Homo sapiens: one gene and its partners. The protein of the gene in region 3 interacts with the protein of the main gene of each other region in a pairwise test. Each region holds a gene or a part of one and is shown on either strand. Other genes may lie near its edges.

Evidence for each region.
Region 1: the proteins of NLRP12 (region 3) and FERMT3 interact in a two-hybrid assay, tested with the Homo sapiens proteins (one large-scale study listed by IntAct).
Region 2: the proteins of NLRP12 (region 3) and CAP1 interact in a two-hybrid assay, tested with the Homo sapiens proteins (one large-scale study listed by IntAct).

The regions. Positions count from the first base shown.
Region 1 is NC_000011.10:64,216,654-64,220,304, forward strand, and holds part of FERMT3 (fermitin family homolog 3 short isoform), read left to right. Parts: intron 1-2,597; coding exon 2,598-2,705; intron 2,706-2,870; coding exon 2,871-3,005; intron 3,006-3,086; coding exon 3,087-3,136; intron 3,137-3,225; coding exon of another isoform or gene 3,226-3,237; coding exon 3,238-3,362; intron 3,363-3,566; coding exon 3,567-3,651. UniProt on the Homo sapiens protein: Plays a central role in cell adhesion in hematopoietic cells. Acts by activating the integrin beta-1-3 (ITGB1, ITGB2 and ITGB3). Required for integrin-mediated platelet adhesion and leukocyte adhesion to endothelial cells.
Region 2 is NC_000001.11:40,064,683-40,068,333, reverse strand, and holds part of CAP1 (adenylyl cyclase-associated protein 1), read right to left. Parts: intron 2,120-3,651; coding exon 2,014-2,119; intron 795-2,013; coding exon 617-794; intron 1-616. UniProt on the Homo sapiens protein: Directly regulates filament dynamics and has been implicated in a number of complex developmental and morphological processes, including mRNA localization and the establishment of cell polarity.
Region 3 is NC_000019.10:53,817,756-53,821,406, forward strand, and holds part of NLRP12 (NACHT, LRR and PYD domains-containing protein 12), read right to left. Parts: intron 1,338-3,651; exon of another isoform or gene 1,129-1,337; intron 1-1,128. UniProt on the Homo sapiens protein: Plays an essential role as an potent mitigator of inflammation. Primarily expressed in dendritic cells and macrophages, inhibits both canonical and non-canonical NF-kappa-B and ERK activation pathways.

The DNA of each region.
Region 1 (3,651 bases), on a different chromosome or scaffold from region 3:
GGCGTGGTGGTGGGCGCCTGTAGTCCCAGCTACTTGGGAGGCTGAGGCAAGAGAATGGCGTGAACCTGGGAGGCGGAGCTTGCAGTGAGCCGAGATCACGCCACTGCACTCCAGCCTGGGTGACAGAGCGAGACTCCATCTCAAAAAAAAAAAAAAAAAAAAAAGGCGGGTGCCACCATGCCCAGCTAATTTTTGTACTCTACAAGGATTTTGATTCACGTTTGAAGTTCTCTTCTGCGCCCTACCTGGCCTTTATTTCCTCCAAGCTGTTTTATTCTTGTTGTCTTGGTCTCTATGGTTCACTCTTGAAGCTTTCCTTAAATGTGGGTAGTCCATGCCTGTCCATTCATATTTAAAAGTGAAGCTCTAAGAAACCAATTGGAGACCCTGAGTGTGTGAGTAGGGCTTGGCATCTTGGTGGCCCCCTGGAGGCGATGGGGCCGGGCTGCCACTCTTTGTCGGGCATTTCTCTGGTGGCTCAGCCTCTCAGTGGCAACCCCACTGATCTTTCAACTGGAGATAGAAGGCTTCCTGCCAATGTCTTGGGTGACAAGTGGGAAAGGGTGTGGGTGTGTCACTCATCTGAATGCCAGCTTTCTTTAAATTTGTGTTTTTGCCGGGCACGGTGGCTCACGCCTGTAATCCCAGCACTTTGGGAGGCCAAGGCAGGTGGATCACCTGAGGTCAGGAATTTGAGACCAGCCTGATCAACATGGAGAAAGCCTGTATCTACTAAAAATACAAAAGTAGCTGGGCGTGGTGGTGCATGCCTGTAATCCCAGCTACTCAGGAGGCTGAGGCAGGAGAATCGCTTGAACCCGGGAGGCGGAGGTTGCGGTGAGCCAAGATCGTGCCATTGTACTCCAGCCTGGGCAACAAGAGCAAAACTCCATCTTAAAAAAAAAAAATTGTCTGTTTTCACCCTAGTGCAACCCCCACCCCGTCCAGCTGTGTCTGGGGTACCAAATGCAGGGGTGCATCTGGCTCAGCATCTCCAGAGAGTGAGTCCCAGCTTCTGCCAGGTGTCTCCTTGCCATCACTTGGCTGCATGGAGCTGGGGAGGGACCTGCTTTTTTTCTTGGACTTTATCCAGAGTCCTCTCTTCAGCTCACCCTCGCATCTCATCCAGAGGATCCCCATCAGAGCCTGCCAGGGGTCCGCCATGCAAACTGGATGCCTCTGTTGAGATCTCTGTTCTTTTTGCTGATTGCTTTCCGCCTATTTTCAAGTCTCATTGGTGGATTTACCAGACAGGAGAGGGACAAGGCGTGAGGCCCTAGCGCTCTCTGCATAACCCAGTTCCCATCTACAGTTTGCTCTCCATCTTCCAAATTATTTCCTTTTTCCTTTTTTTTTTTTTTTTTTTTTGTGACGGAGTCTCGCTCTGTCGCCCAGGCTGGAGTGCAGTGGCACGATCTCGGCTCACTGCAAGCTCCGCCTCCCGGGTTCACGCCGTTCTCCTGCCTCAGCGTCCTGAGTAGCTGGGATTACAGGCGCCCGCCACCACGCCTGGCTAATTTTTTTGTATTATTAGTAGAGACAGGGTTTCACTGTGTTAGCCAGGATGGTCTTGATCTCCTGACCTCGTGATCCACCGACCTCGGCCTCCCAAAGTGCTGGGATTACAGGCGTGAGCCACTGCGCCTGGCCTTCTTTTTCTTTCTTTTGGAGACAAGGTCTCACTCTATCCCCCAAGCTGGAGTGCAATGGTGCAATTACAGCTCACTGCACCCTCAACCTCATGGGTTCAGGTGATTCTCCCACCTCAGCATCCTGAGTACCTGGGACTACAGGCACGCACCACCTCATGTGGCTAATTTTTTGTATTTTTAGTAGAGATAGGGTTTCACCATGTTGCCCAAGCTGGTCTGAAACTCCTGGGCTCAAGCTATCTGCCTGCCTTGGCCTCCCAAAGTGCTGGGATTACAGGCGCAAGCCACCGCCCCGGCCTGTCCTTTGTCCTTTTGGGTTTATCTTCCTAAACCTTTGCTATCAATTTTGGGTGAGTTTCAGCGGGATTGTTGGTCTTCTGTGGGTAACTGGGATCCCCTCTTGGAGTCTCTGCCTTCCCAGTTCCTTTTCTCTGGAATCCTCTTCCTTCACGCTTCCCTTGAGTGGCCCACTGTCATCCTTCCTATCTCTACTCAGCTTGTCACCTCCTCAGGGAAGCCTTCCCTGACTGCTTCCCCATGTTCCATTCTGTCATCTCCATTGAACTTGGGGGGGCCTTAGACTGAGGGCTCATGTGAGCTTCCCTGTGGAAACTGTTTCCTTGATAGTGTTTATTGCAGCCTTGGATTATTTGACTTATTGATTGGTTTACTCGGTCTCTCCTGCACCCAGGGCAGCATGCCAGCACACAGTAAACATCAGCACAACCAAGCCAAGGTTTAGACGTGCAGGCCTGGGCAGCAGGGGGCTAGCAGGCTATTAAGGATGGGGTTGAGGTCTGTGGCCCATGTCTGGCCACTGAATGAATCTGCCTCAGCAAGGAGGGCAGGGCAGAGGGCCAAGGCTGGCAGGGGCTCAGTGCAGGGCGTCCAGGGCAGCTGGCATCTGACCAGCCCAGCCTCCAGCCTCCTCTCCCCCCGCTCCAGACAGACCCCGTGCGGCTGACACAGCTGTATGAGCAGGCCCGGTGGGACCTGCTGCTGGAGGAGATTGACTGCACCGAGGAGGAGATGATGGTGTTTGCCGCCCTGCAGGTACCAGGCGGGCCTGGGGGCACCAGGGCAGGTGGGAGGTGAGCCAGTCCCAGGGCAGGAAGGGCCTTCCTGAGTGGGGGCTACCTCCAGGGAAGCCCGGCCTGGGGGTACTGCTAGGGGACCAGGCTGCTGGACTCAGCCCTCCCTGGCTTCATGACCACCTAGTACCACATCAACAAGCTGTCCCAGAGCGGGGAGGTGGGGGAGCCGGCTGGCACAGACCCAGGGCTGGACGACCTGGATGTGGCCCTGAGCAACCTGGAGGTGAAGCTGGAGGGGTCGGCGCCCACAGATGTGCTGGTGAGGAGGGGCTCAGGGCAGGGGCTGGGCAGGGAGAACTGTGAGGTACCGGGTGCCCCTCTGACTCTGGTCCTCCCATAGGACAGCCTCACCACCATCCCAGAGCTCAAGGACCATCTCCGAATCTTTCGGTGAGTTGGGGGCCAGAGTAGGCAGCCCTGCTGGAGGGGTTGGTCTGCATATGGAGGGAGGGGGTGAGGCGGCCTTTCACAAACCCCAGCATCCCACGAAGGCCCCGGAAGCTGACCCTGAAGGGCTACCGCCAACACTGGGTGGTGTTCAAGGAGACCACACTGTCCTACTACAAGAGCCAGGACGAGGCCCCTGGGGACCCCATTCAGCAGCTCAACCTCAAGGGTAAGTGCACAGGGCCAGGGGCTGGGTGGGGGGATCCCCACTTGTGGGCTAGGCAGGTGAATGCTCTCACCGGCCCTGTTTCCTCCTGGAGACCGGGGAAGATGCCCTCTGTCCTGAGGTGACGGTGTGGGCTAGGATGCACTCCAGGACCTCAGGCGGCTCTTCCCCTCCCGACCTCCTAGACCACCCCTTCTCTCCCTCCAGGCTGTGAGGTGGTTCCCGATGTTAACGTCTCCGGCCAGAAGTTCTGCATTAAACTCCTAGTGCCCTCCCCTGAGGGCATGAGTGA
Region 2 (3,651 bases), on a different chromosome or scaffold from region 3:
GCGCCATTGCACTCCAGGCTGGGAAACGAGCAAAACTCCGTCTCAAAAAAAATAAAAAAATAAAAAACATTTCATCAAGAGGACATGTGGTAGTTAGCCATTTCTCTTACAGTTGGATTTAGGTTGTTACACCATTTTTAGCTACTATGATCATAGATTCCTAGAAGTGGCTGGACAACTCAGACTTCCACCAGCTGTGTTAAGGGTATCTACTTTATACCAACATTAGGTCACTCTCATGCAAATTTTCCATGTAACCAGTATGCATCTTCTGAGGAAGTTAACTCCCTAACACAATGCCTTCCCAGAGGCCATGTGGTGCCACGGAAAAAGCTCTGGGGAAAACCGCCAGCTCTGTGCCTTGGCACAAGAGGGTCCTCTATATATGCTACCTAATATTAAGTCACTTTCCCATGGGGCAGATGGCTTCCTCCAACTGTGATCATCATTTTCAATTTCCATTTAAGCCAGCTTTGCCGTCCCTTAAAGGAACAGGACACACCAAACGAGTCTCCACCACACAAGCCAGGGTTGTAGTTTACAGACGGTTCTGGTTGGTGGGGTCTGGCCCACACAACTTGTTGTACCTACTGTTCGTGTCCAAGTGCTCACTCACCATGTGTAATGCTCTCCCCCTGATTAATCTGCGCGAACAGTGATGAGCGGGAAGCAGACTCATATGAGCATGAAATGGTAGAGACTGGGGGAGGAGGGGGGCATGGTGGAGGGGGAGGAGGACATGATCCGGCAGAGGGTCCAGATGGCAGTCCGCTCAGTTCTTTTGCCACAGGCCCCTGGAACAATAAGTGCAGGTAACATCATCATCCTCTCTGCTCCCCTCTGTACCATTCCCAGTAGTGCCCTACATGGGCCAGTGCACATGGGGTCCCCACCACAGCCTTTGAGGCAATGATTAATGTGTCCTACCCATACCCAACTTGGCTTTATGCCTTCTCACCCTTTCCCAAGGATCCAGCTCTCAGTTCTATTTCTTGACCATCACATTTTGCCTTTGAACTCACCTGATTCCAGCTCTAAAAACTATTTCCACAAATCTACTTGACATCTTCCTTAGTGTGTTACCAGTACCTCTGATTCAACAGATTCAAAACTGATTTCATCATTTCCTGCCGCTCCTCTCCCTGTACAATCATCCCCTTGTCCCTATTTCAGTGAAAGATGTTACTATCCAAGACTGACTATTCAATCTTCTTTGAGGATTCCAACTTCTTCGACCTTATCAAATCTCTATTATCTTGGTGCTATCTCCTGCAAATGTTTTTCTACTATCCCCCAAACACCATGACCACTTTCATAATCTGAGCATGAGTCCTTATCCCTAACCTATACACTGAGACTCTTTTAAAGACAAATTGAATCATTATCACTCCCTTGCTCAAATACCTCATCCCAAAGTCTCAGCCTACCTTCCTTTCCAGCCTTTTCTCCTAAAATTCTGATCATTTCCCCTTATTGAAGCCAGAGATGACCAATCTCTACATTTACTCTGCATGTATTTTGTTTAAGCTGTGCCTTTTGTAGTATCCCACTTCTCACTGCCCTATACTACTTTCAAGTCTCACAGAAGAGTATATACCTTCAAAGTACAATCTCTTCTAGTGAGAAGCACTCTTCTCTTCCTCATACTCTAGTCTGTATCTTTATTATAGCATTTGGCTTGGTGATTTGTATTGGGGTTTTGCATTCTTATTTTTAAGCTCCTTAAAGGCTGGGATAGTGTAACTCATTTGTGTGTGTCTCCTGCTCCAGCACCAATCACTGTCCCTAACATATTTATTGAAATTGAATACCACTGAATATTCCTTCTCCTCTGATCCTTGCTTCCTCTACTCTTTTTACCCTTTCTTTCTCCTCCTTTTCTTCCTCCCTTCCACTGAAAAAACTAGCATTCCCTCACAGACTTTGGTAGTGCTGAAGTCTAAGAAACCTGTGGACCCCATGCTGGAGAGAGAAAGTGGGAGGGAGGGAGGGAGGGAGGAAGGATTCACTAACCGTTTTGCTCCAGGCCAGTCCGGTGGTATGGAACTCCTTAATGTAAGCCTGCAGCTCTGTCCATATACTTAAATAAGCTTTGACCCAGTCTACATGCTTCTTATCCCTGGGAGGATTAAAGAAGAACTTGTCACAGGTGATCCGGGTACATAACAGTGGTGACTCCAGAACCCTTCTTTCCTATGGGCTCACATTCTCCTACCCGTGGTGTTTCTTAGGCTCCGCTCAATGGCAGCTTTTCTATCATCACCAGCTTCTATGTATATACAACCTAGTCTATTACCCTAATCAGACCAAACTCCACTAAGATAGAGACTCTGGATTCTATCTCTATCTCTCATAGCAATGTTTCTCAAACTGTTTTAAGTACCAAAACTTTTTTTTTTCTTTTGACCACTTGCTGCTTATTGAAACTTTTTTCAAAGTAGACCTTAAACACAATCTAATATGTAAAACTGATAAAAGCAGACATTCTGTGCATAAAACCATGGTAGAGAGGAGAGCTCTTAAGTATCACTGTGGAACTCTAAAGACTAAGAAACTTAACTGCCTTATGAGACAATGCCTTATGTCAAAATATGCCCACCCTGACCAAAAGCAAACTTAAAAACTTTCCCTTAGGGGGAAACAATCAGCCTTAAATTATAGAAATAGCATTGTGCCTACGGTTCAAGTCCCCTCTCTTCTTATGTATTAACTGGGAAGGTTATTTAGCCTAAGACCTAGTTTCCTCAACTGTAAAGTGATGGGATAATGGTGGGATATATCAAAACACTGTCATGCTTAATTCCATGTTGCTAGAAGGATAAGGAAGTGCCTGTTGTTCTGGGACACATTTCACTCACAGGAAGGTGTAGTTTTCCTTAAAAAGAGTAGTTAATAAATGTTTGTTGATTGATGAAGGATGGAAGAAAGGAAAGGCTTGTGTAGATATGCAACTTAATAAATTTTGCCTGCAATCATTCCAGCTCAAAACCAGCAATGGAGAAGTCAGAACTGGTAGACGTATGTGGTTAGACATGCAATGACTGCCCTACGTAATACCTGCATTGGCTAGGCAGCCTTACTCTCACTTTAACTGACTTCATGAAAAATTTCTATTAAGTCCTATTGAACCCTTTGCCATTGGGCCAGTAACAAATTCTCAACAAAGGAACAAAATCTTATATAAAGGGCATTAGTCCATGTTACTGCCAGCAAAACTTCCTAAACCCAGAAGGGTAAGGATCAGAAGACTAAAAGGGCCTCTACCAAAAAAGGAGAGAAAGCAGAAGTGGAAGCAGAAGTATTTCCTGCTTGCAAATGCAGCTGTGAGACAATATCTGTAAAGCTCTCCAGAAAGCAGCCCTGAGATAAAACCAGCACAGTGGCTAAGGGCAGCCCTCAGTAACTCCAAAGTGCTACTCCAGCAAGTAACCAAATGGGTTTATCCTTTACCCCTTGAGAAAAAGCTGAACTTGGCTGGGCACAGTGGCTCACACCTGTAATCCCAGCACTTTGGGGAGACCAAGGCAGGAGAATCATTAGAGACCAGCCTGGGAAACAGTGAGACCTCATCTCTACGAAAAAATTAGAAAATTAGCCAGGCATGGTGGAGCGTGCCTGAAGTCCCAGCTACTTGGAGGACTGAGGTGGGAG
Region 3 (3,651 bases):
GGGCAAATTTCATGTTTTGTGTATTTTAGCACTATTTATTTATTTATTTATTTATGAGACAGAGTCTCACTGTGTCGTCCAGGCTGGTGTGATGTTGGCTCACTGCAACCTCTGCCTCCAGGGTTCAAGTGATTCTCCTGCCTCAGCCTCCGGAGTAGCTGGGATTACAGGCATGTACAACCACGACCAGCTAATTTTTGTATTTTTAGTAGAGACAGGGTTTCACCATGTTGGCCAGGCTGTTGTCAAATTCCTAGTCTCAAGTGATTCACGTGCCTCAGCCTCCAACATGCTGGGATTACAGGCATGAGCCACTGCAGCTGGTTGGCAATTTTTTTTTTTTTTTGAGAGAGGGTCTTGCTCTGTTGCTCAGGCTGGAGTAGTGTGGCATGATCTTGGCTCACTGCAGCCTTCACCTCCTGGGCTTAAGTGATCCTCCCATCTCAGCCTCCCAGGTAGCTGGGTCTGCAGGCATGCACCACTGTGCCTGGTCAATTTTGTAGAGAAGGGGTTTTGCCATGTTGCCTAGACCAGTCTCAAACTTCTGGGCTCAAGTGATCTGCCTGCCTCAGCCTCCCAAAGTGCTGGGATTATAGGTGTGGCCACATTTTTTTTTTTTAAAGGTAATCCAGGCCAGCGCGGTGGCTCACGCCTGTAATCCCAACATTTTGGGAGGCTGAGGTGGGTGGATCATGAGGTCAGGAGATTGAGACCATCCTGGCTAATATGGTGAAACCCCATCTCTACTATAAATACGAAATTAGCCGGGCGTGGTGGCGGGTGCCTGTAGTCCCAGGTACTCGGGAGGCTGAGGCAGGAGAATCGCTTGAACCCGGGAGGCGGAGGTTGCAGTGAGCCGAGAACGCACCACTGCACTCCGGCCTGGGTGACAGAGTGAGACTCCGTCTCAAAAAAATAAATAAATAAAAATAAAAAAGGTAATTCTTGAAAATTGCAGCTGAAAAAGGCCTCAGAGATGTTCTCCCTCAGTGTTTCCTAGGCATGCCGCGAGAACCAGCCACATCAAAATGCAGATTCCTGTTGCCTAAGACCTGCTGATTCAGAATCACGGGTTGAGGGTCTTGGATTCCCCATTGGCCACAAGTGTCTCGAGAGACTCTTACGCACAGTAACATGAGAACTGCCGATCTTGCCTGATGCCCTTGTTTTACAGATGGAGATGGAGGCCCAGGGGCATATCGATTCTCCAGCATCACACAGACAGAAAGAGCAAAGCTAGACATCTGTCTCCTTGGGAACGCTGAGCTGCCTCTCAGTAGACTAAACGGATGCAGTCCGGGGAAGAACGCTCGGCAAATGGTTATGCATTGTCAATGCTGGGAGAGATTTAGGCGGAAGAGGGAGAAAAGTGGGACTTTACTTTTGATTCTATATTTGTACATTATTTCCATTTCTTAAAATAACTATGTAACACTTCCATTTAGATATAATTATACAATATGACAAGTAAGTAAATTGATACTTTTTTCTTTCTTTTCTTTTTTTGAGATGGAGTCTCGCTTTTGTCATCCAGGCTGGAGTGCAGTGGCGTGATCTCGGCTCACTGCAACCTCCGCCTCCCGGGTTCAAGTGATTCTCCTGCCTCAGCCTCCCAAGTAGCTGGGATTACAGGCGTGTGCCACTACGCCTGGCTAATATATATATATATATATATATATATATATATATATATATATATATATGTGTGTGTGTGTGTGTGTGTGTGTGTATATACATATGTGTATATATATGTATACATATGTGTATATATGTGTGTATGTATACGTATATATATGTATGTATACGTATATATATGCGTATATATGTATGTATACGTATATACGCATATATATGTATGTATACGTATATACGCGTATATATGTATGTATACGTATATATATACACATGTATACATATATGTATGTATACATATATATACACACACACACACGTATATATATATGTATGTATGTATATTAAGACGGAGTTTTGCTCTTCTTGTCCAGGCTGGAGTGCAGTGGCGGGATCTTGGCTCACCACAACCTCCGTCTCCTGGGTGGTGGAGAAAAGGGAAAGAGAAAAAGAGAGGAGAGGGAGAGAAAAGAAAAGAAAGGAAGGAGGGAAGGAAAGGGAAAAGAAGGGAAAAGAAGGAAGGAAGGAGGGAAGAAAGGCTACAAACAAGTGTCTTTGGTTTTTTCAGTCATTAAAGACTTTGTTTTTTACAGAGATGTTTCCCAGCACACTACTACTGGCACACCTCATTAACGACGAGTCATTAAGCTTTGCAGAAGTGACTGTGTATATCCAGTTATTGGCAGGGCTTGCTTACTCATTCAGCAAATGTTCACCAAAGTTTGCTCGGTTCCTAGCCCCAGCCAGACACTGGAATCGCAGAGAATCACACAGGGGAGTCAAGACTCTTTCTGCCTTTGAAGGCGTCCATGTCACAGTAGAGAAAACAGGTGAGAAATTACATTAAAAACCACAGCTCAAGCAGGGTGCAGTGGCTCACGCCTGTAATTCCAGCATTTTGGGAGGCCGAGGTGGATGGATCACCTGAGGTTAGGAGTTCGAGACCAGCCTGACCAACACGGTGAAACCCCGTCTCTACTAAAAATACAAAAATTAGCTGGGTGTGGTGGCACGCACCTGTAGTCCCAGCTACTCAGGAGGCTGAGGCAGGAGAATCACTGGAACCCGGGAGGCGGAGCTTGCACTGAGCCAAGATTGTGCCACTGCACTCCAGCCTGGGCGACAGAGTGAGACTCTGTCTCAGAAACAAAACAAAACAAAAAACCACAGCTCAAATGGGGCTCTGTGGTGCACACCTGTAGTTCCAGCTGTTCAAGAGGCTGAGGCAGGCGGATCACTTCAGCCCAGGAGTTTGAGTCTAGCCTGGGCAACATAGTGAGACCCTATCTCTAAAAAATAAATTATTTTTTTTTTTTTTGAGACGGAGTCTTGCACTGTCACCCAGGCTGGAGTGCAGTGGCACAATCTCAGCTCACCGCAAGCTCTGCCTCCCAGGTTCACGCCATTCTCCTGCCTCAGCCTCCTGAGTAGCTGGGACTACAGGCGCCCATCACTGCGCCCAGCTAATTTTTTGTAAAAAATAAAAATATTTTTAAAAAAACAATTCCACAGCTCAAGTGCCATCTCTGCCACTTCAGCAATAGCCTATATTTGCTGAGCACTTGCTACCTGCTCTGAATTGTGTTAAGCACTTTGCATGTATTATCTCTTGAGCTTATGCCTGAGTATAAATCATATTTTTTCTTTTTTTTTTTTTTTTTTTTTTGAGACAGAGTCTTACTCTGTCACCCAGGCTGGAGTGCAGTGGCTTAATCTTCGCTCACTGCAACCTCCACCGCCTGGGTTCAAGTGATTCTCCTGTCTCAGCCTCTAGATTAGCAGGGATTACTGGCGCCCGCCACCACACCCGGCTAATTTTTTTGTATTTTTAGTAGAGACAGGGTTTCACCATGTTGGCCAGGCTGGTCTCGAACTCCTGACCTCAGGTGATCCATCCACCTCAATCTCCCAAAGTGCTGGGATTACAGGCGTGAGCCACCGCACCCAGCTCATTGTGATTATTTTATGAGATAGAAGATATAATAAAAGAAATCATGTTGGCTGGGCACGGTGGCTCAC